Homo sapiens: one gene and its partner. The protein of the gene in region 1 interacts with the protein of each later gene in a biochemical or structural test. Each region holds a gene or a part of one and is shown on either strand. Other genes may lie near its edges.

Region 1 (3,500 bases):
AAGGTAAATAATAAAATATATTTAAGTTGTCATTTGTTGACAGAGGAGTAAAACTTAAAGAGTTCTGGCAGATTGAGGTCAGTGATACTGTCATTTAAGAATGAGCCCTGGGTGAGCAGGGAATGGGGTAAGACTTCAGGAGAAGCTGACTGGATTTAGTTTTTGTGCAGCAGATATAAGGTTGCCTGGAGTGCTAACACACATTTACCTGTGATTCTGGAAGCTTCTGGTCACATTGGTACCATCTGCCTAGCACATACCAAATTCCAGGCTCCTAGAAGGAAAGCAGGTGTTCAGCGTAGCTGGTTTAGGCACATCGAGCCATTCTTATCAGTAAGGGAATGTCAACCCTCCTGAAATCCAAGTTCTTGGACTCCAGATAAGGGTCAGCAGGGCTTTCTACAGATAGCTGTCTCAGGTCTGTTATGTTGAATTTCTGCATAAAACATAACATGGGTTTTCCTTTGTGCTCATTATAGAAAATTGGGCTGTGGGGTGGAATTACCTATTTTTGTTGTTTTGTTTTTGTTTTTTGAGATGGAAGTTTCACCCTGTCGCCCAGGCTAGAGAGCAGTAGTGCAATGTTGGTTCACTGCAACCTCTGCCTCCTGGATTCAAGCAATTCTCCTGCCTCAGCCTCCTGAGTAGCTGGAGTTACAGGCACCTGCCATCATGCTCGGCTAATTTTTGTATTTTTAATAGAGACAGGGTTTCACCATGTTGGCCAGGCTGGTCTCGAACTCTTGACCTCAGGTAATCCCACCCGCCTTGGCCTCCCATAGTGCTGGGATTACAGGCGTGAGCCACTGTGCCTGGCCCTAAGTTATTTTATTTTATTTTATTTTTTATTTTTTTATTTTTGAGATGGAGTCTCGTGCTGTCACCCAGCCTGGAGTGCAGTGGTGCGATCTTTGGTTCACTGCAACCTCCGCCTCCCGGGTTCAAGTGATTCTCCTTCCTCAGCCTCCCAAGTAGCTGGGATTACAGGCGCCTGCCATCACGTCTAGCTAAATTTTTGTATTTTTAGTAGAGACAGGGTTTTACCATGTTGGCCAGGTTGGTCTCAAACTCCTGACCTCAGGTGATCTGCTCACTTCAGCCTCCCAAAGTGCTGGGATTACAGGTGTGAGCCACCGCGCCCAGCTATTTTTTATTTTTGAGATGGAGTCTCCCTCTGTCACCCAGGCTGGAGTGCAGTGGTATGATCTCGGCGCACTGCAGCCTCCACTTCCTGGGTTCAAGTGATTGTTTTGCCTCAGCCTCCCGAGTAGCTGGGATTACAGATGCCGGCCACCACACCTGGCTAATTTTTTTATATTTTTAGTAGAGATGGGGTTTCACCATTTTGGCCAGGCTGGTTGGTCTTGAACTCCTGACTTTAAGTGATCCACCTGCCTCTGCCTCCCAAAGTGCTGGGATTACAGGAATGAGCCACCACGCCTGGCCCTACGTTATTTTTAAATAGCTTTAAAGATAAAATATGGTTCCATTCTTGTTTTTAATAATAACTGACAGATTTTATGATACCATTGATTTTTGCTTCCGCTGCAGGTTTATTATTATAATGCTCGGACACGTGAATCTGCATGGACCAAGCCAGATGGAGTTAAGGTTATTCAGCAATCAGAACTGACACCTATGCTTGCAGCCCAGGCACAGGTTCAGGCTCAGGCCCAGGCGCAGGCTCAGGCCCAGGCGCAGGCTCAGGCCCAGGCACAAGCTCAGGCCCAGGCTCAGGCTCAGGCCCAGGCCCAGGCCCAGGCCCAGGCCCAGGCCCAAGCCCAAGCCCAGGCCCAGGCTCAGGCTCAGGCACAAGCTCAGGCCCAGGCCCAGGCTCAGGTCCAGGCCCAGGTCCAGGCACAAGTGCAAGCACAAGCAGTTGGAGCTTCCACCCCTACGACCAGTAGCCCAGCACCTGCAGTATCCACTTCAACATCATCATCCACCCCTTCCTCTACCACTTCTACCACAACAACTGCTACTTCAGTTGCGCAGACAGTATCAAGTGAGTACCACTCAGCATGTGTTTTTATATAGGGGCTAGAGACATGAACAAGTAGGGGACTACATTTCATATTGATCCCAGTGTTTCTGGTATTATCCTTTAATACCAGAATTATTTAAAATACATTTTTGACACTAAAACTTTTGGGTTAGAGGAAAACAGGAATTTATATTAACAGGAGAAATTATTTGCCCAGTTGCAGTTTATGAAGCTAAATTGAGAAAGTGCAAAGTTAGCTGTTCCACTTGGCCAACAGTAATGCCGGGCATTGTGGGTTTGCAAAATAAGTGTAAGTCTTGGTCCCTACCTTACAGTTTCCAGTATTCCTAATCGAGGAGGCAAGAATAACACGTGTTAAACAATTAGATATTGGTGTGCAAAACTATACAGTGAGAAAGATGTAAGAATTTGAGAAGTGGATAAATGAGTGGGTGGACTACATGGGTATTTATCATGAAGGAAACGGAGTAGGGTTTAAGCAGGTTCACAGGTAAGGAAAGGATTTTCAGGTAGGAGAAGCAACATGAATAAAGGTCAGGAAAATGATAAATGTAGTTTATGGGTTTTTAGGAAACTTCTGAGGTGAGAGGGTGTTTTTTTTGAAGGGTCTTAAGAACTAGGCAAATAGGTGAGACAGGCACTGGGGGCCTGTATAAATGCAGTATTTTGGAGGATTTTTTTTGGTGTTGGTTTTTTGGGTGGTGATGAAATAAGGGAGGTTTATTAGGAGCTTCTCAGTAATCTCTTTTAGAATAGTTTCTAGACTGGGATGCGAGTAGGTGAATTGAGGAGTTGCCATAGAAGGGAGCAGTCAGAAAGGCAGGAGAATTTTCAGGTGTAAACTCACAGAGGCCCAAAGAGTAGATCTTTTCTGAAAAGGTGAGAGTCGATTAATAGCAGATTTCAGAGATTAAGAGAGGGACACAGCTATTAATTTGCTTAAAAGATTGTTATTAATGTGACAATATTGCTTTCTTTTTGGGGGGTTTCTTTCTTTTTTTCTTTTTTCTTTTTTTTTTTGTATCAATATATGGATGTTGCTCCTTACTCTGCAGGTTGAGACTAAGCCCGAAAGTACTTAAATAATGATTTTTTTATTTGATTATTTGTTATGGCACTTGTCTCAAGATACACAGCTGTCCCTACAGTGTGATTATAATTTGTATTATTTTACTACCAGGATAATTGATAAGAATAAAGAAAAAATGTGGGGTTTTTTTGTGATTACTTCAGGGACTTGGGAATTATTAGTGTGTAAGAAATACGTATAAGAGAGAAATTAATTCACATTGGCTTCAAATTTGAATTTATTTTATTGATAAAAAGCAACTGAAGCAGTCAAGTAAGGTACATATAATATGGGGATAGCCTTTAAAGATCCTCTTAATGGTTTTTAGACATTTTGTAGCGGGGGAATGTACTGAACAGGAAAATATGAATAGTGTTTTACAAATCTGTTTGCTTTTGTAGTGAAGGTGAATTTTGATATGAAAGT
Region 2 (3,500 bases), about 11 Mb from region 1:
TACTTCCTGCTGTGATGGATGGAGATTTCACTTTCTTACACCATCTCCCTCCCTCCCCTGCCCCCGTCTCTCAAGATAGGAAGAGCTCTATTTTAACCTAAATCAGGTTTAAAGTGTCTACATTATTAATATATATAAATGATGATCACAGACAGCCAAGTAAAGTCCTTTGATTATATTTCCTTTCTTAGAGGGCTTTTCATTTCGCTGCAGAATTTTTGTTGCAATACTTGTCTTTTTATTTATCTATTTATTTATTTTGAGATGGAGTTTCACTCTTGTTCCCCAAGCTGGAGTGCAGTGGCGTGATCTCAGCTCACTGCAACCTCTGCCTCCCAGGTTCAAGCGATTCTCCTGCCTCAGCCTCCCGAGTAGCTGGGATTACAGGCGTGTGCTATGACACCTGGGTAATTTTTTAATTTTAGTGGAAATGGGGTTTCACCATGTTGGTCAGGCTGGTCTTGAACTCCTGATCTCAGGTGATCCACCTGCCTCGGCCTCCCAAAGTGCTGGGATTACAGGCACGAGCCACTGTGCCTGGCCCTGTCCTTTTCTTTTAAAGCTCTGTGTCATATGAGTTATTCTATTGCAGTCCCTTGTCTTCTCAGGAAGTGCAGTGTTAACCCTAGCTCCACCCCTAACTAGCCCAGTGACCTTGCACAAGTCCCTTCTCTTTTCTGAGCCTTGGTTTCCTCATCAGTAGAAAGAGAGCTAGGCTCCCTTCTTGTTCTCATTCTAAACCTCAGAACCTATCACCCCACCCACCTCACAGGCAGTAATATTATTACTCCTCAGTTAATATTATCTGAGAAGTCTTTACTCCAGGGTGGGGCAGCCCCAGGACCTGACAGATGGCAGAGAAACCAAAACAGGCAGGGGCAGGGGGAGGGAACAAACAAGCTAGCTGGGCCTGCCCTGTATGGTCTAGTTCACCCCTGCAGTTTAGGGGGCTGCTCTGTGGGGTGGTATGGTTGTATCTATTACTCTTTTCCTCCCCTGCTATCCCCGTTGGTTTTTGCTCTCCACAGCCTCTGCTTGTAGGGGCATCATTTACAGTCCCCAAACTCCCCAAGCTCCTACTCTACCCCCAGCTCTCTTTGTACCCCTTCTGCTTATGTTACACTCAAAGTTTCCCAAAAAGTAGTTATAAAAATACTAACTTTTGGTAGCAGCTTTATTGAAATATAGTTTGCATACTGTACAATTCACTCATTTAAAAAATATAGTTCAGGGCAGGCATGGTGGCTCATGTCTGTAACCCCAGCACTTTGGGAGGTCAAGGTGGGTGGATCACCTGAGGTCAGGAGTTTGAGACCAGCCTGGCCAACATGGCAAAACCCTGTCTCTACTGAAAATACAAAAATTAGCCAGGCATGGTGGCAGGTGCCTGTAATTCCAGCTACTCGGGAGGCTGAGGCAGGAGAATCGTTTGAACCCGGCAGAGGTTGCAGTGAGTGAGATCATGCCATTGCACTCCAGCCTGGGGAACAAGAGTGAAACTCTGTGTAAAAAAAAAAAAAAAAAAAACCGTTCAGTGGTTTTTAATATATTCACAGAGTTGTACAACCCATAATCGTAGTCAGTTTTAGAGCATTTTAGCACCCCAAAAAGAAATCTCATGGCCTTTAGCACCACCACCTATTTCCCCCAACCCCACCCCTTGGCAACCATAGATTTGCCTATTCTGGGCATGTTTAATAAATGGAACAATACAATACGGGGTCTTTAATGATTCGCTTCTTTCACTTAGCATAATATTGTCAAAGTTTATTCATGTTGTATCAATATCAGTACTTAATTACTTTTTATGGCTGAAAAATACTCCATGTGGCTATACAATTTTTTATTTATCAGTTGATGCATATGTTAGTTCTGCTTTTTAGCTATTACAAATAATGGTGCCATGAACATCCATGTACAAGTTTTTGTGTGGACCTGTATTTTCATTTCTCTTGGGTGTATGCCTAGGAGTAGAATTGCTGGGTCAAATGGTAACTGTGTGTTTAAAAATTTGAGGAAATACCAATCGATTTTCCAAAGTTGCGGCACCATCTTACATTCCCATTAGCAACGGTATTCTCAGTTTCTCCACATCCTTGCCAACACTTGTTATTGTCTGTCCTTTTCATTATAGCCATCCTAGTGGGTGTGAAGTGGTATCGATTTGCATTTCCCTAATAACTAAGGTTATTAATCTTTCTGTGTGCTTATTGGCTATGTGTATATCTTTGGAGAAAAATCTGTTCCTTGCCTATTTTTAAAATCAGGTTCTCTTTATTAATGAGTTTTAAGAATTCATTTTTTAAATTTATTTTTATTTAAAAAAATTTTTTTGTAGAAACAGGGTATCACTCTGTTGCCCAGGCTGGTCTTGAACTCCTGGCTTAAGCGATTCTCCCATCAACCTCCCAAAGTACTAGGATTACAGGCATGAGCCACTGTGCCCAGCCAAGAATTATTTACATATTTTATATACTTAGCAAATACATGATTTGCAAATATTTTCTTCTATTCTGTGGACTTACTTTCTTGATGGCGTCCTTTGAAGCACAATTTTTTTTATTTTGATGTTTAGTTTATTTTTTATTTTGTTGCTTGTGTTTTTGTTGTTATTACATAATTCAAGGTCACAAAGATGTACTCTTATGAGTTTTATAGTTTTAGCTCTTACATAGATCTTTGATCCATTTTGAGTTAATTTATTATATATTACATTATTTATACCTCACACCATAAAACAAATTTTGCATGTGGGTATCCAGTTGTCCTAGAATCATTTGTTGAAAAGAATATTCTTTCTACATCTCTTGTCAATTGACCATAAATGTGAGGATTTATTTCTGGATTCTCAGTTCAATTCCATTAATTTAATCATTGTTCATTGTCTTCATGGTAACACCACACAATTTTGATTACTGTAGTTTTGAGTATGTTTTGAAATCAGGAAGTGTGAGTCTTCCATTTTTGTTCAGTTCCTCCCACCCCCAAGATTGTCTTGATTATCCTGAGTGAGTCCCTTGAATTTCCATATGAATTTTAGGATCAGCTTGTCAATTTCTGCAAAGAAACCAGATGAGATTTTCATAGAGATTATGTTGAATCTGTAGGTTAGTTTGGGCAGTATTGCCGTGTTAACAATATTAAGCCTTCCAACCTATGGACATGGGATATCTTTTTATTTATTTAGGTCTTTAATATTTTCAACAAGGTTTTATTGCTTTCAGAGTGTATGTTTTGTACTTATTTTGTTAAGTTTATTTCTAAGTATTGTATTATTTTTGATGCTACTATAAATAGAACTGTTTTCTCCATTTTATTTTCATATTGTGCATTGCTGGTATATAGAGATACTACTGATTTTTATATGCTGATATTGTATCCTACAAACTTGCTGAACTTGTTTATGACTTTCAATAGTTTTTAGTGGATTTTTCTTGGATTTTCTATAACAAGACTATGTTATCTGCAAATAGGAATAGTTTTACTTTTTCCTTTCTAAT

Evidence for each region. Proteins that work in one complex are often made in the same cells at the same time.
Region 2: the proteins of TCERG1 (region 1) and CYFIP2 form a complex in vitro, tested with the Homo sapiens proteins (one study listed by BioGRID).

The regions. Positions count from the first base shown.
Region 1 is NC_000005.10:146,457,333-146,460,832, forward strand, and holds part of TCERG1 (transcription elongation regulator 1), read left to right. Parts: coding exon 1-3; intron 4-1,551; coding exon 1,552-2,005; intron 2,006-3,500. UniProt on the Homo sapiens protein: Transcription factor that binds RNA polymerase II and inhibits the elongation of transcripts from target promoters. Regulates transcription elongation in a TATA box-dependent manner.
Region 2 is NC_000005.10:157,272,623-157,276,122, forward strand, and holds part of CYFIP2 (cytoplasmic FMR1-interacting protein 2), read left to right. Parts: intron 1-3,500. UniProt on the Homo sapiens protein: Involved in T-cell adhesion and p53/TP53-dependent induction of apoptosis. Does not bind RNA. As component of the WAVE1 complex, required for BDNF-NTRK2 endocytic trafficking and signaling from early endosomes.